Homo sapiens: one gene and its partners. The protein of the gene in region 6 interacts with the protein of the main gene of each other region in a pairwise test. Each region holds a gene or a part of one and is shown on either strand. Other genes may lie near its edges. The genes, in order: CCDC136, KRT40, ATXN1, JPH3, ZYX, PDLIM5 and GABPB1.

Evidence for each region.
Region 1: the proteins of PDLIM5 (region 6) and CCDC136 interact in binary tests that used the Homo sapiens proteins (3 or more experiments, as listed by UniProt).
Region 2: the proteins of PDLIM5 (region 6) and KRT40 interact in binary tests that used the Homo sapiens proteins (3 or more experiments, as listed by UniProt).
Region 3: the proteins of PDLIM5 (region 6) and ATXN1 interact in binary tests that used the Homo sapiens proteins (3 or more experiments, as listed by UniProt).
Region 4: the proteins of PDLIM5 (region 6) and JPH3 interact in binary tests that used the Homo sapiens proteins (3 or more experiments, as listed by UniProt).
Region 5: the proteins of PDLIM5 (region 6) and ZYX interact in binary tests that used the Homo sapiens proteins (3 or more experiments, as listed by UniProt).
Region 7: the proteins of PDLIM5 (region 6) and GABPB1 interact in binary tests that used the Homo sapiens proteins (3 or more experiments, as listed by UniProt).

What each region holds. Positions count from the first base shown.
Region 1 is NC_000007.14:128,808,968-128,812,467, reverse strand, and holds part of CCDC136 (coiled-coil domain-containing protein 136), read right to left. Parts: intron 3,019-3,500; coding exon 2,824-3,018; intron 2,330-2,823; coding exon 2,102-2,329; intron 1,207-2,101; coding exon of another isoform or gene 1,116-1,206; intron 669-1,115; coding exon 156-668; intron 1-155. UniProt on the Homo sapiens protein: May play a role in acrosome formation in spermatogenesis and in fertilization.
Region 2 is NC_000017.11:40,977,215-40,981,326, forward strand, and holds the end of KRT40 (keratin, type I cytoskeletal 40), read right to left. Parts: exon of another isoform or gene 4,111-4,112; coding exon of another isoform or gene 4,087-4,110; exon of another isoform or gene 3,938-4,086; coding exon 3,776-3,937; exon of another isoform or gene 3,697-3,775; coding exon 3,571-3,696; exon of another isoform or gene 1,811-3,570; coding exon 1,590-1,810; intron 1,083-1,589; coding exon 983-1,082; 3' UTR 501-982; downstream 1-500. UniProt on the Homo sapiens protein: May play a role in late hair differentiation.
Region 3 is NC_000006.12:16,324,461-16,327,960, forward strand, and holds part of ATXN1 (ataxin-1), read right to left. Parts: coding exon 1,934-3,500; intron 1-1,933. UniProt on the Homo sapiens protein: Chromatin-binding factor that repress Notch signaling in the absence of Notch intracellular domain by acting as a CBF1 corepressor. Binds to the HEY promoter and might assist, along with NCOR2, RBPJ-mediated repression. Binds RNA in vitro.
Region 4 is NC_000016.10:87,686,008-87,689,507, reverse strand, and holds part of JPH3 (junctophilin-3), read right to left. Parts: intron 1-3,500. UniProt on the Homo sapiens protein: Junctophilins contribute to the formation of junctional membrane complexes (JMCs) which link the plasma membrane with the endoplasmic or sarcoplasmic reticulum in excitable cells.
Region 5 is NC_000007.14:143,384,345-143,387,844, reverse strand, and holds part of ZYX (zyxin), read right to left. Parts: exon of another isoform or gene 2,460-3,500; intron 1-2,459. UniProt on the Homo sapiens protein: Adhesion plaque protein. Binds alpha-actinin and the CRP protein. Important for targeting TES and ENA/VASP family members to focal adhesions and for the formation of actin-rich structures.
Region 6 is NC_000004.12:94,454,942-94,458,441, forward strand, and holds part of PDLIM5 (PDZ and LIM domain protein 5), read left to right. Parts: intron 1-305; 5' UTR 306-347; coding exon 348-443; intron 444-877; exon of another isoform or gene 878-1,302; coding exon of another isoform or gene 1,303-1,617; exon of another isoform or gene 1,618-2,243; intron 2,244-3,500. UniProt on the Homo sapiens protein: May play an important role in the heart development by scaffolding PKC to the Z-disk region. May play a role in the regulation of cardiomyocyte expansion. Isoforms lacking the LIM domains may negatively modulate the scaffolding activity of isoform 1.
Region 7 is NC_000015.10:50,299,699-50,303,198, reverse strand, and holds part of GABPB1 (GA-binding protein subunit beta-1 isoform beta 2), read left to right. Parts: intron 1-75; coding exon 76-270; intron 271-1,830; coding exon 1,831-1,942; coding exon of another isoform or gene 1,943-1,978; intron 1,979-2,296; coding exon 2,297-2,410; intron 2,411-3,500.

The DNA of each region.
Region 1 (3,500 bases), on a different chromosome or scaffold from region 6:
CTGCCATGGGTAGAGGGCTTCGCTTACTTCCAATAGTTCCCCAGGTCAGTTCTGACCCCATTCCCACACTTCTTGCCCCTTCCCCTGGCGATGTATCTCTTAAAAAGACAAGAGTCCATCGTCCCCTGCCTGACCTGTCACCTGGCAACCATTACCTCCATGTCTTCAGGCTCAGCAGGTTCCTCGTCAGTGCAGCTGCTGACAAAACTCTTCTGGCAGGTGTCAGAGCTACTGGTGCTGCCGTAACTCTTCTTATAGGTAATGCTGCTGTTGCTGGTAGTGCAGTAACTCTTCCCATAGGCCTCACTGGCACTGGTGCTGCTGTCATAGCTCTTGAGAAAGCTCTTGCTGCTGGTCTGGGTGCTGGTGTAACTCTTGTAATAGCTCTCATTGTCATCCACAGTGGTATCATAAGTCTTGCGACAGTTCTCATTGCTGGGGACCATGCTACCATAGCTCTTCCCGTAGGACTCAAGGCTCATTTTTATAGAAGGGGACTGGACTTGAAGCAGCTGCATTTCTTCCAGGCAGAGCTGCAAGTCTGCCTGCAGCCTCTTCCGCTCCTCTAGGAGCCTCCCTTGCTCTTGCTGCAAGAGCTCCTGCTTCGCCTGACCGGCGTCATACATCACCTGCAGGGCCTGCATCTGCTCCATGAGCAGCTTGGATTGCTGGGGGCAGGGGTGGGGAGACAGTATCATTACTCTGACACTTCAGTCCTTCCAGCTGCACCTCTCCTGGTACAGATGTCTGAGAGCACACCTTAGAGAATGGCACACCTACATTTCCACCTCACCCCGGCCTATGTCTCTGACTTAGCCTATAGGTAACTGGCATGTATCAGTTTCTTGCTCATTTGGGAAAATCTCCCCAGGGCAGATACTCCATGATTTCCGGGCTCCCATTTCGGCTGGTTTCTGCACTTTGGTACATCCCTGTCTCCTTGGAGCAGTGCCGAGTGGGTTTCCAGAACACCCTGGCTCCCTACCACACCCTCTTCTCAGTCAGGTATACCTGTTATCCTGACCTTCAGGCTCAGTCCCCTCGCCCACCCCTAGTTCTAAAATCAGCCCCGGCCTTGAATGCGGCAATATGAAGAATTGGAATCAAAGTCTTACTATTAGTTCCTGTATCTCCTGCCCCAATTCTGAATCTGGCCTCTGGGCATGTTGGGCCTGGCTTCTTGGCTGCTGATGTCCAGGATGAGATCTGATCAGTTAAGGAAATATTTTATACCTGGTTCCCAGCTGTGTTACCCAGGCCTCCAGCCTGGACATCTGATGCCCCTGGAATATGATCCAGCCTCACAGTGTTGACTTCTGCTACTCCCTGGTTCTCCTTGTTCAGAATAAGATCTGAATGAATAGATTTGGCCTAAACCGAAACTGTCTACCTGCCCCTCCTTGCCCACGCTGAGACCTCAGAACAACTTTATCCCCCAACCCTGAAGAGAATTGTATGGTGATCTCCACCTGTGTCACCTCATCTGAATGACCTCTTGCTGGTACTTGAGAGGCATCAATTTTCTGGTCTAACCCCTGTGACCTTGCTCTGTTACTGCCACCAAAGTTCCAATGAAGATAGTGTGGTCAGTACTAAGAACCCCATATGCTAGGAATTCTTCTCTTGGAAATGAAAGGCCCCAAATTTGCCTCATAGAGAACACCAAAGGTGATAGATTTTGATAACTGAGAAGTGTACTTTTCCACTCAAGAAAAAGATGACATTTAGAGTCAGTCCAAAGGAATCCAAACAAACACCAAACTGATATTATACATCTTACTGGGAATGAGTCGAATGATCTGATGACAGACTTCTGGTCATCCCAGCTCTGCCCTGAGTGCTCATAGTGCTTCAACTGGGCACTGTGAATATCAGTGTGATAAAGGATAATGGCATCTAGGTGAGGTCCTCAGGCCGTATCTAAAAGCCACCTCTTAATGGAGCCTGTGAGTGGTCACAGCTGGTGAAAGGCAGGGCTTTTGCCTTATCCTTACCCCTGGCCAAACACGCCTTCCCAACTCTGACCCTTCGGCGGTGCCCACTCTCTCTGCCATGCTGTTGTGCTCAGGAGAACTGTCTCCCTACCTCTTGCTATGGTTACCTTGTTTCGATTACATTTGGAGGACTTAGCCAATTTGGAATCATCGGGATTCTCCAACACTTCCTGGAAATGAGACTCTTTGAAACGTCGCAGCTCTTCGTGGATCTCTAATTGTTCTTTTAATACACAGTCTTGGTTCTGTATCAGCTTCTTCTGTTCCTCCTGCATGCCTTGGTAGAGCAGCTGCAGCTCACACAGGTCTTCTAACTTGGTGAGTAGCTCCTGACTCTGAGGCGGAGTAGAAGGAAGGAGGCAAGGGATGGTGGTGGTCACACAGGAAGTCTGATGCCTCCTTGGTGCCTCATCCCCGTTGTGAACAATTCCCTGAAGAATCTCAGGGTTGACTTCACAGAGCCCATCTGGGGACGGGGGAGCCCTTCTATGGAGACCTGCTAAAAGTGGCAGTGGTCTCTTGTGTTGGGATATATTTTGTAGTTTACAAAGTGGCTTCAGGTGCATTTTCTCCAGATGGACTAAATACCTAAATATAAACTGCTGCACAGATTCCTGAGTATAAAAGGTATTTTAAGATTTAAAGCCCTTATAAGAAAAACTCTAATTGGCTCTATGGAGCTTTTTGGTTTGGGGAGAGTGGTGAGAAAGTAAGGAGTGGTTGGTAAGAGAAAAAGTTCAATCCCCACCCTTTTATTTTTCCCTAGTCACACAGGGAAGCTTCTCAGAGCAGCTTCCCCGCAGTTAGCAGCTGCCTGTGGCAGAGTTACCTTGAGTAAGAGGCCACTCTTTGGCAGTGGCAGTGTGAGCCTGTGCAGCTCTTCCTGCAGCTGGCCCTGCTCCTCCTGCATCCTCCTCTGATCCTCCAGGAGCTCACACTGCTCCATCTGCAGCTGCCCCATCTCCTTCTGGCTGGCCTTGTACTTTTCCTGCAATTCTGTCAGTCTGGACAGCAGTGTGTCACACTGTGGGTGGGGGCGGGTGTGGAGGGGGTGGTTACTCTGTAAGGTAAGCTTCTTGGGTGGCTAACAGAGCACTTCTGCGCTCTCCTGCCTCTTGTGATCCTCTCCCTGTGCAGTCACCTTGGACTGGTCACCCCAAGCCACAATGCATTCTGGCTGTTTAGATACCGATTGGGGATCCCCTGCAGGCTGCTCCTTCAGAGCAGGTTGCTCTAGACTGGTGGCTGGCCTTGCTCTAAACTTCCACCATTCCTTTCTGGGGGCAGTTTGATGGGGAATGCTATCGATGCCCCTTTCTCATTTCCCCCTTCCTCTTCTCCGGCCCTTTCCTTTATACACCATATTCCCACCCTGTTGGGAACTCTTAGCTCCTGTTATTCTCATTAACCCCAGTTGTTTTTTAATGCAACTACACTCCTTACAAATAAGGACTTAATTTCACCCTAATTTTTCCCATTTTTGCTTTCCTAATTCTCTCTTTAAAT
Region 2 (4,112 bases), on a different chromosome or scaffold from region 6:
AAGAGATTGAGACCATCCTGGCTAACACGGTGAAACCCTGTCTCTACTAAAAAAAAAAAAAAATTAGCCTGGTGTGGTGGCAGACACCTGTAGTCCCAGCTACTTGGGAGGCTGAGGCAGGAGAATCGCTTGAACCCAGGAGGCAGAGGTTGCAGTGAGCCCAGATAGTGTGACTACACTCCAGCCTGGGTGACACAGCAAGACTCTGTCTCAAAAAAAAAATAAAAAATAAAAAAAGTGATGGCTACAATACAATCTTATGTTTTTATTAGAATTAAAAATGCTTAGATGACATAAATGAAAGAAAGTTTACACAAGTGTGTGCATATGTTAGTATGATTATAGCTGTGTGGAAAAATCTATTATAAGAAAGAAAACTGGAAGAAAGTACCCCAAAATATTGACTATGGCTGTTTGGAAGATGAAATCATAAGTGACCTTTTCCCTTTTAATGAGCCAAATTTAAAAAAAGAGAATCTAGTACTTTTATAATCAAAAAATACATTTTATCATATTTTATTCCTAATATTTTTCCTCAGAAAGATACACACAACTATTTTCTAAGATATATGACATTTCTCATGGGTTCATTAATTTATTTGTATTTGAGGAGTTAAAAAATATTTTCAGCCTGGGTTTATGTACATTGAAACTATGGTTATGGGTTTAGATGATTTCCTTGCCATAAAATGAATATTCTATCAACAGTAATCAGCCATAGAGCTATATTTACCACGCTAAAGGAATAAAACACGTTTTATTTGGAGATGAGCAAGAATGCTTTATGGGCTTCCAGTATACCACAAATAAGCCGGAAGGAGAGGAAATAGTAAAGCAGAAAGACTGAGGATACCTGGAGGGCAATTCCAGGATATGAGAGCCTCCTGGATTTGTGCTTCCGGTTTGGATGTCCCTGGTTGAAGCCCCATCTCCTTTCTAGGATGCTGCTGGCTTTGATTCCTCTACCTGCTGTCCTTAACATTCACAAGCAGCAGTTTTCAACAGTGCAGATGACATAGGCTGAGCATGGCTCACAAGTGTTGCTCGAGGTGCATGTGGTCGAACATGGGCTACAGGAAAGCCTGGGGAAAAATCGATTTTCAACCAAGATTAACAAGGGAATGTTGATAAAATGGCAACTCAGAAAAACCGTGTCAAAATTTGCCCTACAAATTATGTTCTGAAAAAAACTCTGCACAATAGCATTGACTGAAGCCTGTTTCTTCTCTGCACCCAGAATTGCCACTTCATGTTCACTGTAGCAGTGGCAGTTGAATAGTATTTTATATTTTTTCTTGATTTTGCAAATGTTATCTTAGGCCTATTCCTGATTTTCCTTTAGTGGAAAACAGGAACAAAGGGAGATGCCAGCATGAAATGTTACACTAATAATTAATCTGCCTTTAGAATATTTTAAAAATATCTCTAGTGTCATGTTCTTAACCTCAGCCACTTTTCAGCACTTTTTTAAGAAGATCCCTAAACACACTGGGGAGGTCTGAACTTGTCCAGACTTTGGGGAAACAGGATTCTTTTACATCAGCCTCTTTGTGACTCTGGGGGATTTCATGAGTAACTGTGGAACTTGCCTGCTGTCCTCGCTGTCCAGCAGGCCCCAGTACGTGTTGATCTCACCCTCCAGCCGGGCCTTCACGTCCAGGAGCACCTGGTACTCCTGGTTCTGTCGCTCCAGGTCGCAGCGGATCTCGGCCAGCTGGTTCTCCAGGTTATCGATCAGACACTGAATTTGGGCCAGCTGGGAGCTGTACTGGGCCTCGGTTTCTGCCACGGTGCATTCCAGAGATTCTGTCTGCGGGAGGAAACATTGTCCAAAGGACCATGAAGTGCAGTCTCTCGGGCCAGAGTGCCTACTTTCAAATTCCTGCTTACCCTTTTCTAGCTATGTGACCACTGGCAAATTATTTAGCTTCTGTGAGTCTCAGTTTTATTCTCTGTATAGTGGAGAATACAAAGTATCTGTTTCATTAGACGGTTGTGAAGATTAAGAGTTAATATGCGGGCTGGGCGCGGTGGCTCAGGCCTGTAATCCCAGCACTTTGGGAGGCCGAGGCGGGCGGATCACAAGGTCAGAAGATCGAGACCATCCTGGCTAACACGGTGAAACCCCGTCTCTACTAAAAATATAAAAAATTAGCTGGGTACGGTGGTGGACGCCTGTAGTCCCAGCTACTCAGGAGAATGGTGTGAACCCGGGAGGCAAAGCTTGCAGTAAGTCAAGATCATGCCATTGCACTCCAGCCTGGGCGACAGAGGGAGACTCCGTCCAAAAAAAAAAAAAAAGAGTTAATGTGCGTAAAGCATTTAGAACAGTGCCAGCCATACTGCCACTGTTCTACGTGTCAACTATCACTACCACCACTATGACTACAGCAATACATGACATATTTGTGAAGCTTAAGGACTATCCACAACATATGAGAGGAAAGATTGAGTTTGGGCTCTTGGCAGGGAGGGGTAGTATAGTGCTATTAAGAGAAGAGGCTCTGGATACCAGAGGCTGGGACTGGCATATGTGTGGTAAGGGGATGAAGAGAGGTTGGTTAATGGGTGCAAACATACAGTTAGACAGAAAGAATATGTTTTCATGTTGGACAGCAGAGAAGTGTGACTACAGTTAACAACAATACACTGTGCATTTCAAAATAGCTAGATGGGAGGACTTGAAATGCTCCCAACACATAGAAATGATAAATACTTGAGGTGATGGATGCTCTAAATATCCTGACTTGATCATTACACATTCTATGCATGTAACAAAATATCACATCTACGTAAAAAAAATTTACGCATATTATATATCAATAAAAATAAATTTAAAAAGAGAGAGAGAAGAGACTCTGGGATTCAACTGGCTGAACTCAGCTTCCAAGTTTGCCTCTTAGAATTGCATCCTTTGCAAGTTACTTAATCTGAGTCTCAGTTTTCCTTATCTGTGTCATGGGATAAAGGTATCTATCCGGTAAAGTTACTGTGAGCCTTAAATCAGCATAGTGCCTCTCACAGGATGAATGCTCAGCTATTGTTCTTCTAGGTGTTCTCCGCAGGGCCTAATGACATGCACACAGTGGTGCTTGACCAGAACTGGTTCATGTCATCTTGAACGCATGGTGTTCCTGTTGCTTGAGTGGGGGGTGGTGCAGTGAAGGATAAGGTTGAAGTGTAGATCCTGGGAAACTGTAGGATGAAATGTTTGAAAATGATTCTTTGTTTTAGATATAACAGTGAGCCTGGAAAACTGGCCTGAATCAAATGAGAATTAAAACCTGCCAGAATGCTTAAGCGACCATGGCCCGGAGGTTTCTCTCCAGCTCTGCTTCTCCCTCCCTGTCTCTGGAGGCTGCTGCAGCATCAGACTCAAGCCCAGGAGTGAAGGTAAGGCATCTTAGAGGACAAGCTGTGGACCTGTCACTTCTGCTTCTATTAATAGCTGGGTAAACGGCAGTACTCGGGAAAGGCAAGGAAATGTGATCCTCGGATATGGAAGAGGGCTTAACATCTCAGGGCCTGACTTATCAGTGACACAACGGACACTGCCTTTGCCTCACGCACCAGGCTTTGCTGTGCTTGGAGCTCAATTTCCAGAGCACTGGCTGTGCGTTTCAGTTCCAAGATCTCCATCTGGCAGCCCTGCAGCTGCTCCGCGCTGGACAGTTGCTGCTGATTCAGCTCTTCTGTCTGAAACACAGACACCATTAGAGAATTCAAAAAAGGCAGAAGTCTGTAAGCCTGACATTTTTTCAATCTGGGTACTGACCTGAACAGCCAACCATTCTTCAGCTTCTCTGCGATTGTTGGCAAGCACCGTTTCACACTGACAGCGCATCTCATCCAGGACCCTGTTGAGGTCAAGGGTGGGGGCAGTGTCCAGCTCCACACTGAGGCGGTCGCCAAGCTGTTCACGAAGCAAGTTGACTTCCTGAAAGTGGGATGGTGTAAAGAATGTCACAGAATGGTGGGGAAAAATCCATTTGACATCCAATGGCATTCTACTTCTGTTTTTTGGAGCAGTGGGTAAAAGTGTGAGATTTTGATTCAGATTGCCTGGGCTGAATCTCTTTTCACCACTTAGAAGGGCCTCAGTTTCTTCGTCT
Region 3 (3,500 bases), on a different chromosome or scaffold from region 6:
AAAAATGCCCAAAACAATTCAAACCATTAATTAGTTTATCTTTTTTTTCTTGTTTTATTTTATCTGAATGTCCCAAATAGCAGCTATTTCATGACTATTTTCAACTCAAGCTGGAAGGAGGCTCTGTCCCATTTGAATGTTTTCAAATCCTAGATGGAAACACTTGTAGAAAGTACGCTCGATAGCCAGGAAAGCTCTCAGCTGCAGGCTGAACCTGCTGGACTCCCAGCAACTTGGGCAGTGAAAGAAATGGGCTGTGGAATAAATGCATGTAATCGATCTAAGAACCTGGAAAAGGGTAGATTGAAGGAGCCTGTGGAAATTAAGAGCGTTAACCATACTTCCAGTGACTCATCTTGGCTACAGCTGACTTTACCCCAAGCCCAGCAGGTCACCTGGGACAGCCCTGACTTCTCAGATTGTATTAACCACGCTTTTATTTTCTGATGCTTTGATATTTTAGTGTCTTGTGGATCCCAGAGGTATAGTCTCTCCTAGGATTAGCTAATTCCTAGAGGCCTGACTTTTATATGCAAACCAACCAGTCCAGAGCTAATTCCTAGGAGCCTGACTTTCATATGCAAACTAACCAGTCCAGAGCCCACTCCCCAGCAGCCTCCTATATTGGTCCATCACACTTAGGGCTGCCTTCCATCTGTTTTTTTTTTTTTGTCTGAGACAGAGTCTTGCTGTGTGTCCAAGGCTGGAGTGCAGTGGCCTGATCTCGGCTCACTGCAATCCCCACCTCCCGGGTTCATGCAATTCTCCTACCTCAGCCTCTGGAGTAGCTGGGATTACAGGCACACACCACCATGCCCGGCTAATTTTTGTATTTTTAGTAGAGACAGGGTTTCACCATGTTGGCCAGGCCGGTCTCGAACTCCTGACCTCTGGTGATCCACCCGCCTCAGCCTCCCAAAGTGCTGGGATTACAGGTGTGAGCCACTGTGCCCAGCCCTTCCACCTGTATTGATCACCCCAGCACCAGCAGCCAGACAACTAAGGACAGCCCCTACACCCCAGAGCACACTGGAATTATCCACTCTAACCAATCCTAAACCCGTTTACCCTGCCTCCCATGAAACCACAATAAAGGCTGTTGTTTGCCACATTTCCCCTCACTCCCTCCACCTCCTGACCCACCTGGGGCTTCCCCAGGTGCCCCCCACTTTACGGTGTTCTACACCTCTTGGTGTAGAGTGCCCTTTCCTCTTGGGATCAGAGAGTATAAAAATTATCTCGTCAAAGAGAGTTGTCTGCTGATCTATCTGTTGGCCTTATCATACCTAAATAATAAGACATTATATATATGTTGGAGACCGGGCCTTGCTATGTTGCCCAGGCTTGAGTGCAGTGATAGTCACAGGTTCAGCCATAGCTCACTACAGCCTCGAACTCCTGGGCTCAAGTGATCCTCCTGCCTCAGTCTCTGGAGTAGCTGGGACCGAAGGCATATACCACTGTACCCAGCTAATAAGACATATTTTAAAACATGGATGTTGCAATGGGATATGATTGCTTTAGCATCTAATCCCCTCACTCCAACGGCATCCTCTGTCTTTTCCTGGTAAGAAAAAGTGCCGAATGACCACTAGAAGGACCTGAAGTCCAGCAGCGTTTCCTAATCAGGGTTCCTCATCTTAATCACAGAATTCAAAAAATAACTAGAGTGGTGAGTTTCTGGATTGTCTCAAGGACTCCATAACTAGCCCCACTCTCCATGCATGGAGGTTAATTCATTACACACAGCAGAGATCACGGGGAAATGGGGCTTATTTTTTCTAGAGAACGCAGTTGGGAAAGGCCGAGTCTAAGGTCTAGGTGTACCCGAGAACCCTTAATCCTGCCTCATAGAAGCAATTCGTCTTGCCAGGAGATGATGATGGCATCACGGTGTGGTGTCCCATCCCTGTGCCACCCTGGCTAACGTTACCTGGGCTCGGTGCTCCCCGACGGCGAACTGTATCACGGCCACGCCCGGGCTATGGCTGTCTTCAATCCTCTCTACGGTGCTGGAGTCGATCTTCAGGTCGTTGCTTATCTCTGCACTCTGGATGAAATCTTCTGTTTTTAAGTCTTCCACCTTCTTTAGCTCCCCGTTGGCCAACTGGATGATGGAGCCTTTCATGAAGTAGGGAGGCAGCGTAGGGGGAGCCGCCGCCGGGGAGGCCACGGACTGCACCACAGGCAGGTGGATCTGGGCCTGCACCATGGCTGGGTAGGCGGCCTGGGTGACCAGGGCCTCAGGGTTGAAGTTCTCGCTCTTGGGAAGGGCGGTGGTGACGAACGTGTGAGGCACTGCAGCAAACTGGGGGGATGACGTGACTATGGCCGGGGCTGCCCCCGACGCTTCCATGTCAGTGCTGCCGACCGGGATGAGCAGGGGCTGTGTGCCGGGGATCACCAGGTGCTGGGGCAGGCTGCCGGCGTAGGTGATTGCTTGCTGCTGGCCGCTCAGGTAGCCGATGACAGGGGGTTGAGTCCCTGCGTAGAAGGCCGTGGCTGGCAGTCCCACCGGGAGTGGCTCTGAAGCACTGTGTGTGGTCTGAATGACCGTGTGGGGTGAGAGCGCGTAGGACCGGTGGCCAGGCTTCCCTAAATGCAGGCCACTTTTGTCGTTGAGGGTAGAAGGGGAGGCTTCACGATGAGTGGCCTGTTGCACCTCCAGGTCAGCTGCGGGCGTGTTGCTGTTGGGCAGGACCATCACAGAGGCCCGGACCCCCGAAGGATCACGACTGCTGTAGTCTGAGGGGCTCGGGTGGACCACCACGTGCCTGGACTCGTACGGGTGAGGAACCGACTTGCCGCCTGCCTTGCCCAGGCCCAGGTCGGCTGAGGACGGGGCCCCGTACCGCCGGCTCTTCTCCATCTCACCGTTCAGGACCTCCTTGGCCTGGATGGCCTGCTGCAGCCGGCTGCTCTCAGCTTTCTTGGTGGCCTCCCGAGGGACAAAGTGGCTGCCGGAGTCGGCGTATTGCATGACGACCTGGGAGGGGGGCCCCAGGGTGAGCGTGTGTGGGATCATCGTCTGGTGGGGGTGGAGGTGGACGGGGATGGCCGGAGGAGAGGCGGTGCGGCCGGTGTTCTGCGGAGAACTGGAAATGTGGACGTACTGGTTCTGCTGGGCTGGTGGGGGGGACCCCGGGGTGATGAGCCCCGGAGCCCTGCTGAGGTGCTGCTGCTGCTGCTGCTGCTGCTGCTGCTGCTGCTGCTGCTGATGCTGATGCTGCTGCTGCTGCTGCTGCTGCTGCTGCTGCTGCTGCTCAGCCTTGTGTCCCGGCGTCTGGCTCAGACTGCCCATGTTGGCCAGCAGAGTGGAATAGGCCTCCAGCTGGGAGCGCTGGGATGGAGTGGTGGCCCCTGCGGCCGAGGCCACTGCACTGGTGACGGGGTTGGCGGTTGGGGGGATCAGCTGTGATGGGATGAAGCTGGCATAGGTTCCACTGTATTGGGAGGACCCAATGAACTGGAAGGTGTGCGGCAGGTGAGCGTACTGCACG
Region 4 (3,500 bases), on a different chromosome or scaffold from region 6:
GGGAGGGGAGTGGGGACCGTGGCTCCCAAAGCCCTCTGTGGGACCCCCGTGGTCCCCACCCCACAGACACTTGGAGGGAGACTGGCTAGGCCCAGGCACCACAGGAAGGGCGGACAGCAGCTCCCAGGCTACAAGGGAGACCCAAGGCTCGGAAAGTGCGTGAGGACGCTGGGGTGTGGACTCAGGTCCCACCAACCCTGACTCGCCTGTCCTGAGGGTAAGAGGAAGCCCCTCACCCTAGCTGACCACCTGTCTGGGGAGGCCGAGCTGTCACAGCAAGGCCGCCAACACCCCTACCCGCCTGGGACTGTGTCTCAGGGTGCTGGGACAGTCTTGCTGAGAAACAGCCAGTGCCGGGGCCAGCGTGAGAGCCCAGGAGCCGACTTCCCTCCCCACCTTTCGAGGCTGCTGGGGCTTCAAGTCCTAGGGCGGGGCTCCCCGGAAGGGGAGGTCACCACAGGACCCAGGGGCCAGCTCTGCAGCCAGCAGAGTCCCTGTCGTCTGCCGGTGGCTCAGTCCCCATCAGCCCCCACCCGGAGGCCTGGATAGGGAGGGGCAGCATTGTAGGACTAGCCCCGAGACTTCTCCGGAGCTCCGTGAGCCCCCAGCAGGAGGTGAGAACCAAGAACATTGACTGGGATCTCATTTCCTGCCAACGCAGGGACACGGGAGCCATGCCCGACTTTATTCCATTAGGAGAAACCCAAGAACGCGGCGCTTCTTACCCTCCGGGGAACAGTTACACGTTCATCTCAAGTAGCGTCCTAGGCTCAGCACAGAACAGTGGGACCCCCGCCCCCAGCATCCCCGTCCTGCCCGAGCCAAAATGGTGCAGAGCTCTGTGGGAATTTGGGGAGTCTTCCCTCTGAGGACGGAGGTCTCAGAGCTCTACCCGGGGCGGCCACCTCATGAGACCAGCTCGGACACCAAGAGCCACTGCCCATCTTAGAGTCTCTCACGCTCGGACATTCTCCTGGCCTGTACCCCAGTCTGACCTTTTGGCAGGAGAAGGTCTGGGAGACGCCTGTACCCCAGTCTGACCTTTTGGCAGGAGAAGGTCTGGGAGACATGGCTACCCTCGGTGTGGCACCAGATAGTCCCTCCGTTTGTAAAGAGACGTTAGCAAGCAGATTCGGGGCACGCTGCGACGCCACCAGGCTGGGCTGCTGTGTCCTCCTCCTTGCTGGTCTAAGAGGCAGTGCTGAGCAGAGCGAGGCCATGGCCCTGGCCTGGGGCTTGGGGCACAGCTGGGTAGCTCTGGGTGGGTGGCCAGCCCTCCCAAGTCTGAGTTCCTGTCACACGGGGGTGTGGGTGGGCCACTCTGAGGTCTCAATGACTGCTTCTCTGTGGTCACTCCCCAGAAACAGGGCTGGGCTGGTTGGGTGTCCCCCGAGCAGAGCAGGGAATGGGCCAGAGAAGGTCTGTGTAGAACTGTGCTGACATCCACGTACCCACCTGACGCCCAGCCCCACCACCTCTCTCCCCGTGAGGGTCCTGTGTGGAGGGCAGCCCTGGCCCCATCAGAGGCCCCCAATCATGCCCACGGATCACCCACATCGTACCTCCTCCTTGGCCAGGATGGGACTTCCAAGGGGCTGGCATTCCTGTGCCTTAGACGCTATGGACCTAGCAGGCTGGGATCAAGGCCCCCCCCATCCCCCGATGGCGCCCCGGCCTTTCCCACCAGGTCGTCCACCCACTGCTGCCGAGATCAGGCCTGGCTGGCCCAGGAGACCCCACGCTAGAGGGGCCCCGACTCCCAGCACCACCAGCAGGAGGGCACCCTCAGCTAGAATGAGCTGCTGAGCAGGTAACGTTCCTAGAAGCCTCGTGGTGAGGATGCAGGGCGGGTCCTCGTGAAGCCCCTGCAGCTTCTTCCTGTGCCTTCAAGCCACCTGCGTCCTGCAGCCTCCGACGCTCAGTCCTCCTGCCTCTGGGGCGGGGGCGGATGGCACCGGAAGTGGCCTGGGCACTGGACACCGCATGGCCAGGCTCCTTCATGGTCCTGCCTTCACGTGGCCTTGGGCAGAACCCTGACGGTCAGAGTTCTCGGGCTGGGAGGCTGCCAGGGACCTCCCAGACAGGCAGCAAGAGGCTGGCGCCAGCCACTCTCTGCAGCCGAAGCGCTGGATGGTTTGCTTCTCTAGAAGCCGGCATGGCCCAGGCTTCAGAGCCTCGTTTTAAATCCTGATTCCACCACATCCTGCCTGAGCGCTCTGGCAACCCTGTTCCCCTCTTGGAGGCTCTGTTCTGTCATCTGTCATTGGTGACCTCAGCTCCTGGCTGTGAGGACGACTGAGGAAGGACCTGGACAGCTTCCCCCAGCCCCACCCCTCCCCAGCAGCCGAGAAGGCCCCGGGGTGCCTGGTCTGGGAACACTGATCCTGAATGCATCCAAGGCGGAAACAAGAAATGCTTGGATCAAATCTCATGCCAGTCCCAGCGCTTGTAAAAAACACACGGTCCCAACGCCCCCTCCAGGGAAGATGCTGCTCAGAGAAGGCTCCGGGGCGCCACCCAAAGAGGTGGCAGATCGGACCGAGGTGCTCAGAGTGAGCCAGGCTCCAAGGTGCAGCAGCAGGAGGTGAGGCCAACTTGGCCAGACCCTCGAGGACTGGACTCCCACCAGTGAGGCAGCAGCGGCCCCGTCTCTCCATCACAGCGGCCCCCACAGGGGCCCGCATCTGTATCATGAAGACAAGAACTGTCGGAGGAGGCAGCTTCAGGACTTAAAAGGTCAGCCCAAGGCCCCTCCTGCAGGGACCTGAGCCCTCCAGGAAGCATCTCCTCTGAATCCAGGACTGAGCCCTCCAGGAAGCATCTCTGACTCCAGGACTGAGCCCTCTGGGAAGCATCTCCTCTGAATCCAGGACTGAGCCCTCCAGGAAGTATCTCCAAGTCCAGGACTGAGCCCTCCAGGAAGCATCTCTGACTCCAGGACTGAGCCCTCGAGGAAGCATCTCTGACTCCAGGACTGAGCCCTCCGGGAAACATCTCTGACTCCAGGATTGAGCCCTCCAGGAAGCATCTCTGACTCCAGGACTGAGCCCTCTGGGAAGCATCTCCTCTGAATCCAGAACTGAGCCCTCCAGGAAGCATCTCTGACTCCAGGACTGAGCCCTCTGGGAAGCATCTCCTCTGAATCCAGAACTGAGCCCTCCAGGAAGTATCTCTGACTCCAGGACTGAGCCCTCCAGGAAGCATCTCCTCTGACTCCAGGACTGAGCCCTCCAGGAAGCATCTCCGACTCCAGAGTCTTAACTGGAATTCTCAGGGTGGGGGAGCCTGCACCCATTTCTTGGGACTGGAGCAGTAAAGCACCACGCGGGGGTGGGGGTAGAAACACCCAAAAGGCAAACTCGTGTTTCTGGAAGTTAGAAGCCGTGATCCAGGTGTCGGGAGTGCTGCTTCCTTCCAGGGTCTCCGCTCCAGCCACCCTCCAGCCACGGAGTCTCCAGTGATCTCTGACATCACTCCATCCGCCCCTGTCTCCTCCTCTT
Region 5 (3,500 bases), on a different chromosome or scaffold from region 6:
TCGCCCCCATGGGACAGGGGCACGCAATGGCGTGCACACACGCGCACACACACCTACCCGGCCTGCCTGCTGCTGAGCAGCCCCTGTCAGCGTGAGGATACAACACAGGCAGGAATTGCAGGTTAAACCCACTGAGCTGTCTGCAAGAACCCAGCCCCACCCCCACACAGAGACCCTGTCCCTCGAGTGAGGGGCCTCTGAACTACCTCACTCAGGTCCCTCCCCAGCAGCCTCAGAGAAGGTCCAAAGGCCACCCCCTAGGCCAGCCCAACCTTCCCATTTAGGGGATCCCGGGGACTGGAGTGGGGGGTGGATGTTAAGGACAGCGCTGCCAGTAACCCTGAGAGGTAACCCTGAGAACTCCGGGAAGGGCTGTCTGACCTGCATCAGCACTGCCGGGAGACACGCCCACAGGAGCAAGTGCACTGGGTGGGTCTTTTCTATGTCTGGAAAAGCCTACCCAGGACTGTGGCCCCATCACTGAGTGTGCTACCTGCAGATGCCTTCATTCCCATAACACCTGGAACCTCCAAAGCCCCCCTGCTACCTCCTCCCATAGCCCCTCTCCCCTCAGCCCTGGCTTCACTGCCCCTCACCCCGACCCCCATCTGTACCCAGAGTTGCGTCCTTTCTGCCCAGTGAAGCATGCGTCCATATAAGTCCAACTCTCCAGATCTTAGCCATTTTCCCTTAAGATCTTAGCCATCTTCCCTTAAGATCCTACCATCTCTTAACTGACTCGTTCCCTGGAACACTCACTTCAACTTTGTCTCCTCCAATCTTCCCTTCCTGGCCTCTTGGGGACACAGTGAAGGGGCTCAGTCAGTCCTTGCTCTCCAGTGCCATTCTAAATGCCTGGCTCCTCCTTCAGAAGCACAGAATCCTCATCTGCATCACCTCCCATGGGTATCCCCATTCATCAGGACACTCTATCCAGAACTGCCCCCTCTGCCAGCCTGCACCAATGCCACCGCTTCAAACCAAACTTCCGTCCATCTCAGTCATCATCCATCATGGGACATCCTTGACCTCAGATTTACCTCCAAGTCTCTTGCCAGCCATTATCTGCCTCTCCTCTTCCCCATCCACACCTACTACATGAACCCAGAAAAGCCTTAGTTGCCCCCACCCGCAACCCACCCCTGGACTTTGTCCACCATGCCCCAGCCTGGTCCCATGACCATCTAACTCCTACAGGGTTCACTGTCCCTCCGGGCACCTGCAGCCACCCGCAGCTATCCGGCCCAGTCTCCAACCCCAAGTCACACCACCACCCTCTTCCTGTTTCTGCTTCCAAGCTGCAGAAAGCAGTGGAGAGATCACTGAACACTGCAGCGTGAGCTCACAACACTGCAGCACCCGCGCGACCTCCAGCCCAGCCTTCCCCACAGCAGCCGTTCCAGACCTCTCCATCTCCTGAGCCCCCACCTGCTTCGTCCCTTTGCTCGCACCGTGACCTCACCTCCCACATGGTTGAGGACATGGAAGCCAGCCAGCTTAAGCTCCCTCATCGTCCTTCCTATCCACGCTGCAACCACTCTGTCCTTGCTGTCTGGTATGCCTCTGGGGGAGGAGACATCACCAAGATCTCCTCCAGGGACCGAAGCAGCCTGCCCCTGCTCTCCCACAACACTCACCCTCCATCACCTGCTTCCCCGGGTTACACACGTACCTGAGCCCTTCTCCCCTAACTTGCAAAAACCACATATGCTACACCACAGACTCAAACACACACACCCTCACACATACCCACATACCACTCACATGCACACACACATACCAGACCACACACATACACCACTCACATACACTCACACATATACCACACCACACACACACACTCACACATATACCATACCACACACACACACACCACTCACATTCAGATAATACCACACCAGGCCAGGCGCGGTGGCTCACACCTGTAATCCCAACACTTTGGGAGGCTGAGGCAGGCAGATCACTTGAGGTCAGGAGTTCGAGACCAGCCTAGCCAACATGGTGAAACCCCATCTCTACTAAAAAATACAAAAATTAGCCAGGTGTGGTGGAACGTGCCTGTAATCCCAGCTACTTGGGAGGCTGAGACAGGAGAATCGTTTGAGCCAGGGGGGCGGAGGTTGTAGTAAGCATGGGCGACAGCCTGCACTCCGTCTCCAAAAAAAAAAAAAAAAAAAAAAAAAAGATATACCACACCACACGCTCACACACACCACTCACATATATACACATACGCCACTTGTGTGTATTTGTAAGAAAGTATGTATGTGCACCTTCACTTGTGCAATCACACACCATACACATCACAGCCACACTCACACATGCACACACCTTCACTCACACATGCACACATGTACTCATATACACATACTTTCACACAATCACACTACACACATCACACGCCACTCATACATTCATGCTCACACATGCACATACACTCACATACACCATACCCACACCCACACACTAACACACACACACACGCCACTCATATATTCACATATGTGTATATATACACACACACACACCACTGACACACAGTCCTTCCCTTAGTCCTTTAAGACCAGGCTACACCAGCAGCCCCACTTCTCACCACCCACTCTCTCCTCAACTCCTCACATTGTGTTCCCACCACAGGGCACAAACAGGCCATCCCAAGACCGCTGATGATTTCCCAACAGTCTAATCTCTAGCCTTGAGTCCTCACTCCCTCAAATACCCCACTGAGGAGCTCAGCTCTCTTCTCCAAGTGCACCCTGACTCTCCTCCTGACTCTTCTTCCCGCACCTCCTGGTCCCCGCTGTCTGCACTCCCTGGGAAGCTCCTCCGCTCCGACCCTGACCCTCCAGCGTCACAGTGTCACTGTGCCCCACTACCATGCTAGACATCTCTGGCCCTCTCCTGAAACCTAGCCCTGGATTTCTAGCTGAATGACGGCCCCAGCTGAAAGTCCTCCTGGGACCTGTTGCTCAAAACGTTGACAGCTGGACCCCTCCTCTTCCCGTCCAAACCATTTCCCCTTCTGGACTTCTCTATTTTGTCAGCAATCCTGCCATCCGCCCACACCCCATCTCCAAATCGTGCTGGAGACTTTTTTTTCCCTCTTCCCCTCACCCTTGTCTTCCAATTGCTCATCCCTTGCTAAGTCCTGGAGGCTGTGCCTTCCCAACAGCTCTAGCACACAGCTCTCACATGCACGGTTTAATTTTCATTGCAGCTAACATTACTATTGCCCAAGAGTGAATTCACACCCATCACTGACCTCCCTCGAATACACATCTCTGCTGGTGAAACTTTCCAGAAAGCTTCCAAAAACACTGCTTTCACCAGCCCTCCTGACCCACCCCACACCTACTCAAAAATCATGAATGCCTCTCCAGTGCTCAAGAGCTCCTTGGGTGAGCCACTTCACCTCCTACACCCTCCAGCCCCGCTTGCCTCTCCAAGTATAGCTCTATCATTTTCCTACAGGAACCTTCCACTTTCTGTTCTCCAAACAT
Region 6 (3,500 bases):
TAAAGTACTTTGAGTTAAACTTTGCATGCAAGAAGCCACAAAATTGGATTGAAGCAAGTTGTGAAACATACTAAGTGTCTAGAAATGTATTCTGATATGGAATTTTTAGACCATGGAAATTGCCATGAGTGTAGAAAATTTATATTAGCTCACAGATTGCTTTTCTTAAACTGAAATTAATGAAGAACTTAATTAAGACTTATCTTCTATATCCTCTCACCCCCCTCAAACAAAATACTAAACATAATTTATGTTCTAGGGTTTCAAGTAAACATTTTTGCTAATCATCTGATTTTCTTTCACAGCATATTTCATTTTCTGTCATTGGACTTTGAGCCATTAGAACCATGAGCAACTACAGTGTGTCACTGGTTGGCCCAGCTCCTTGGGGTTTCCGGCTGCAGGGCGGTAAGGATTTCAACATGCCTCTGACAATCTCTAGTGTAAGTAAACTTTACAAATTTTATTATAGATGTTCATTCAGTGCTTAGTCCTCGGGCTGAGTTGTTTAATTCTCTGTTGACCTGTACTCTACTTATTATCATTGCTCCTGGGATTTGATCTTGGCAAATTTGATTATCTATAATAAAGGATGAGGGGAGTAGATTTAGCAAGGATAACTGACTTCAATTTAACTTCTTTTCGTTTTCCCCCATGTTATCAATAATAAAATGGAAAAAGCATTTAACTAGGAACAGACTGTACATTTTTGAACTGTCCCTAATTTGGGGAATTCTCTGAATCTTCGTTCTTTCATATATAATTTTCAAAGGTTGTGCTATGGGATTTTAATAATCTCTTTCAGTTCCAAAAGCTGTTTGTTAAAAACTGTTGATCAAAATTGAATAAAATGATTGTTTCGGAATTATTTCCTCAGCTCACTTTCTGGTGGAGGTGATAGCCAACAGTAAGATGGCCAAAAGCTACTTACCCTTGAAGAGGAAATGAAGGGCTTGGAGCTCCAACTAGATAGCCTATGAATAATTGAGATTTGGCTTTTTACCTCATTATGGATTTAGTTTGAATGTATTCTGTGTATATATTTTAAGGATATGTTTTCATGATGATGATGATAGCACTGATGAGAGGAGTAATTAAAGCTTCTATTTATTGAGACTTGACTATATGTCAGGTACTGTTTCACTTTCATCACCAGTAGGTAATTATTACTATTATATAAGTTTCTAAAAGGTTTGTTTTTGCATATTCAAATAAATATGAATTTCCATCTTCTTTTACTCAAATGGTGGCATATTATACACACAGTTTTTTTTGAGACAGAGTTTTGTTCTTGTTGCCCAGGCTGGAGTGCAGTGGCGCAATCTCGGCTCACCACAACCTCCATCTCCCGAGTTCAAGCGATTCTCCTGCCTCAGCCTCCCGAGTAGCTGGGATTACAGGCATGTGCCACCACGCCTGGCTAATTTTGTATTTTTAGTAGAGACCAAGTTTCCCTATGTTGGTCAGGCTGGTCTTGAACTCCCGACCTCAGGTGATCTGCCCACCTCGGCCTCCCAAAGTGCTAAGATTACAGGCGTGAGCCACCGTGCCTGGCCCACACTGTTTTATACTTTGCTTTTTTTTGCAACAATTTACCCTGAGATCATTCTCTATTAATATATAAGGAGGTATGTGTGTTTTTTTAAAACAATTGTATAATTTTATTTTATAAGGAAAGTGACATTTAACCAATCCCCTACTGAAGAGTATTTGTGGCATTTCCATATTACTGTTACAGTGGTACAGTGAATACCAAATATAAGTACATACATATATATGTGAATATATGTATCTACGTCATTTTGAAAGGTTGTGCCAATTTACACTTTTGTGCAACGCATGAAAATACTATTTTTGTGCCAGTCTTACCAACAAACTTGGATATTTATCAAGTGCTGTGAATGCATCATCTCATTTAATTATCATACCAACATGCAAAATAGTGATATTATTCCCATTGTATATAACTGTGCTGTGCGCTCACATGACTGTATGGAAGAGCTGGCTTTCCAACAGTTATGCTGTGCTGCCTCTTTAATAATTCACTTTACCTTAAATTTAGTTAGTTGTTTCTTTAATCAGATATTTAGAAGATTGTCATTTTGGTTAATAATATATGTGTATGTATAAATATATATACACACACATACTCTGCATCTTGTATGTGTATCCAACTTCATTTTGAAAGATTAAAAATAAGTTTGTAACGCCTAAATATCCTTATTAAAATACTGCAAATCCCATTTTACTAACGGAGTCTCCTTTGTTTCTTGGCTGTGGATTTTTTTAAAGTTATCTTTAATTTATCATCAATTTCTGCCTTGATTTCAGTTAATTAGATTTTATAAGGAAGTATATATATGTAATCCAGCCTGCAAGTTTTAACACCTTTCATGGTTAGATGAAATTTTAAATGTAAAGCATCCATGTGAAAATGTGTCATGTGATTTATTCCTGTTTGAGTGAGTTGGTATTTTATTTCTTCTACTGATGATCTATTATGGGAACAGGAGCAATCTTTGAGTATTATTGGTTTTTACGTTTTGTTAGCATTTTATATTTTAAATATTCTACTTTAATTATCTAAAGAAAGTTATTAGTTTAAATGCTTACTTTTTTGCTGAAAAAAAGTTCAGAAACAAATTGACACCTAAATGAGCCAAACTTAATTATCACTTTGTTGTGTGGTAATAGAAATGCAAATAGAGTATGTTTGCGAATTTTGTGGTACCGTGTCTTTAAAAAAGTTTCATGTGCTTCAGTTTCCTGGCAGACAGTTTGAGGTACTAGCTCCATGTTGTGATGCTGATACAACAGAACACTGTGTACATACATATGTGCCCTCCCCTGGCACAGAAGAAATGCTTTCCTTGTGTAGACAGAGTGCTAATTAAAGGATTTTGAACATACTGATTAAAAGAGACTATGGTAACAAAGCTGCTGAGTTATTTCTGTTCTCTTACAAAAGTCTCTGCCATCTACTGTGACCTTTTTGGGCCTTGTGCAGTGGGGCATGCAATTCATTCTGGACTGGAGAGGATTGGAAGGGGAGGGGAAGGAGAGAAGGGAATGTTGGCTCAATCGGGCTGCTAGGCTCTTGGCCTTTCATTGTAGTTATTTTTAACCCCTTGTGTGGTTTAAATATGCCTAGTAACATTGCCTAATAAAGGTTTGCGTTTAATAACTAATTTATATTGTGGTAAGATTGTTAATGTTATAAATTTTTAACTTACTCTCATCTTAATTAGTTCTTTGGTTATACTTTTTCTGCCTTAATTATGTAAAATTACTGGGATATTACTGGTCATCAGGTTCTTTAATTAATAGTATCAAGAAACAATTAAAACCTGAAAGCATGCTTAAAACATGTAATTTAATGATTCACTTACTTTAATAATGCACATGAAATTCTTAGCAAGGTCTGGCAGTCTCTCAATTATCTTTTATAATAATATTATAAACTTTAAAAAGAAAACTATTTAGAGACTTGAAACATTAAA
Region 7 (3,500 bases), on a different chromosome or scaffold from region 6:
AACTAATAATTTCATATCAGGAATTTTTTATGTGATATTTCATATTTTAGTAAACTCTTTGAAATATTTTTGTAGCATGGTGCTGATGTCAATGCAAAGGACATGTTAAAGATGACAGCTCTCCATTGGGCCACAGAACACAATCATCAAGAGGTGGTGGAACTTTTAATCAAATATGGTGCTGATGTACACACGCAAAGTAAATTTTGTAAAACTGCATTTGATATTTCAATAGACAATGGAAATGAAGATTTAGCAGAGATATTACAGGTAACTTTTGGCTTTTAATTTAAGAAAATAAAGAAAAAGAAGCCTTATCAGTAGAGGGATCTCTTATATTGTGCATGATTTAAACTATTGTTTGTAGCCTTTCATTTTGGACTTAGTTATTTTGGATAGGCCTTTTTCTCTTTCACTTCCTCTTTGTTTATTACTATTCATTTTCTTGATTATAAGGCCAGTCTCTTCATTAACATTAGATAAGGTGATTACTTTCTGTTTTTTAAGTTTCTGAATTTCCCTTTAGACCTTTTTTTTTTTTTTTTTTTTTTTTTTGAGCCAGAGTCTTGATCTGTCCCCCAGGCTGGAGTGTAGTGGCACGATCTTGGCTCACTGCAACTTCTGCCTCCTGGGTTCAAGCAATTCTCCTGCCCCAGCCTCTCAAATAGCTGGGACTACAGGTGCATGCTGCCATGCCTGGCTAATTTTTTGTGTTTTAAGTAGAGATGGTGTTTCATCATGTTGCCCAGGCTGGTGTTGAACTCTTGAGCTCAGGCGATCTGCCTGCCTCGGCCTCCCAAAGTGCTGGGATTACAGGCGTGAGCCACTGCGCCTGGCCCTAGACATTTTATTCTATTATTTTTGTTGCATTTTGATACTATATGGTTTTTCCAAGTCTACTATAAATGACTTTATAAAAATTAAAAAACATATATATTAGCAACCATAATATCATTCCTTGAGTGAGTGATGCAGTTTGATTTGTTTCTTTTATCTTTCAGCATCCTCAAAAATATCTGTTGTTTTTGGCTTTTGGGAAGATTTTTCTAGTAACCAACATTACTTCTCTTATTTTCAGCCAGATGACATAATATAAATTATCTTCTTTAATTACTGCCTCTTCTTGCCTGTTTGTTCCCAATCCCAGCAGTAGAACTCTTCTTTTCTAAGACTATCTGACTCCTTTGAGCTTCCACTAGTTACTTAAAAGATGTTTTATGTTCAGGAAAATGAATTCTACCATGCCTCTTTTCATTCCTTTTACTCCTAAGAGTGCAGTTTGGGGGTTGGAGTTGAAGATGGGGAACAATTAATTGAGAAGGACATGCTTTATATATGTGGTATTATGTATTGCCAAACGTAGAAGAAATAATTAAATTCCTATAGCTACAGGGCAGAAATATTTTTTGTTTGTTTTGTTTTTGTTTTTGTTTTTTGAGATGGGGGTCTCACTATGTTGCCCATGCTGGTCTTGAACTCCTGGGCTTAACCACTCCTTCTGCCTCAGCCCCCTGAATAGCTGGGATTACAGGCACCTGCCACCTCAGCCAGCTTAATGTCCAGTTGTTCTGTGTTCTGTTAAAAACCTTTTAGATACTCGTTTCTCCTCTCCCAGGATTTTGCTGCTTTACCTAAGAGGGGGACTTGGGATATAAATATATACCCATGATGTGCCCCTACACTGTCAGTGGACCTTAGACAAATATTTCCACTTGTACTATGTGATTCTTCTTAGAGAATACTCCTTTATATGTGTTTGTATTATATGGAGAATTTGTGCTATATGTTCTGGTTATAATTCTGAAAACACTGTGGTCATTTTTTCCCTAGATTGCTATGCAGAACCAAATCAACACAAACCCAGAGAGTCCTGACACTGTGACAATACATGCTGCAACACCACAGTTTATCATTGGACCTGGAGGGGTGGTGAACCTAACAGGTCTGGTATCTTCAGAAAATTCATCCAAGGCAACAGGTATTGAGATGCATATAGGATAGGCTTTGGGATTTTATGCTTTAGTAGGTATTCATCCTTGTAAGAAAGGACGGTTGGAGAATGAGGGTAAGATTCTATCAGCCACCTTTGTTTTCTTTGGTATAACTGGCAAAAAGATTTTTATGAGACAAAACAATCTGAAGAAAGGTGATATTACAAAATTTACTGCAGTATTACCTTTCAAAAGCTAATGCTATCCAAGCTTTGTTTAAGAGTCAGTAAGATAAATAGAATATCAGAAATATGCATTGGATTAAGCTCCTTAGAAATTCAAATCTATTTTCTTTTTTCTTACAGATGAAACGGGTGTATCTGCTGTTCAGTTTGGAAACTCTTCTACATCAGTATTAGCTACATTAGCTGCCTTAGCTGAAGCATCTGCTCCATTGTCCAATTCTTCAGAAACTCCAGGTTAGAAAAACGAGTCTAATGTGTACATTAAAATTGCAGATTCAGGCTGGGTGCCGTGGCTCACACCTGTAATCCTAGCACTTTGGGAGGGCGAGGCGGGTGGATTGCCTGAGCTCAGGAGTTTGAGACCAGCCTGGACAACATAGTGAAACTCTGTTTCTACTAAAAATACAGAAAATTAGCCAGGCGTGGTGGCACATGGCCTGTAATCCCAGCTACTCGGGAGGCTGAGGCAGGAGGATTGCTTGAACCCGGGAGGTGAAGGCTGCAGTGAGCTGAGTTTGTGCCACTGCACTCCAGCCTGGGTGATAGAGCAAGACTCTGTCTCAAAAAAAAAAAAAAAAAAAAAAAACCAAAAACAGTTGCAGATTCAAATATTTACAAAGGCCAGGAAGACAATAAAAGGCTAAAGTGGGCAGGATTGAGATTACACCCGGCTGAAGAATGGGGCAAGGGCAGGGAGGCATCTGTGACTCAACTCTAGCTGATTATAGTCATCAGTCCAGTATTCCCAAATTCTGTTTTTTAATAGGAAGCTGTGAATCTGGATTTTAAAAGAACATTAAATCTTGGTAACTAATTGAAAAACAAAACTTGTGTGGCTCACAGAAAAAAATGTCCCTGTCTCTAATTTGGCTCTTGATTTACTAGTTTGTGACTTTTTGTTTAAACAACTCACTTTGGCTGGGCATGGTAGCTCACACCTGTAATCCTAACACTTTGAGAGGCCAAGATAGGTGGATTGCTTGAGCCCAGAACCCTGGGCAACATGGTGAAACCCTATCTCTACCAAAAAATATAAAAATTAGTCAGGTGTGGTGGTCCACTCCTGTGGTCCCAGCTGCTCAGGAGGCTGAGGTCAGAGGATCGCTTGAACCTGGGAGGCAGAGGTTGCCATGAGCCAAGATCATGCCACTGCATTCCAGCCTAGGCGACTGAATGAGACCCTGCCTCAAAAAAAAAACCCAAAACCAAAAAACACTTTTTTCATAAATTTTAATTTTTAGCAGCTCTACTAGAGTGTTATAAAATCTTAATGACTGATAGAACTAGGAAATAGTATACAGAAACCACTGTTAAAGGGTTACCT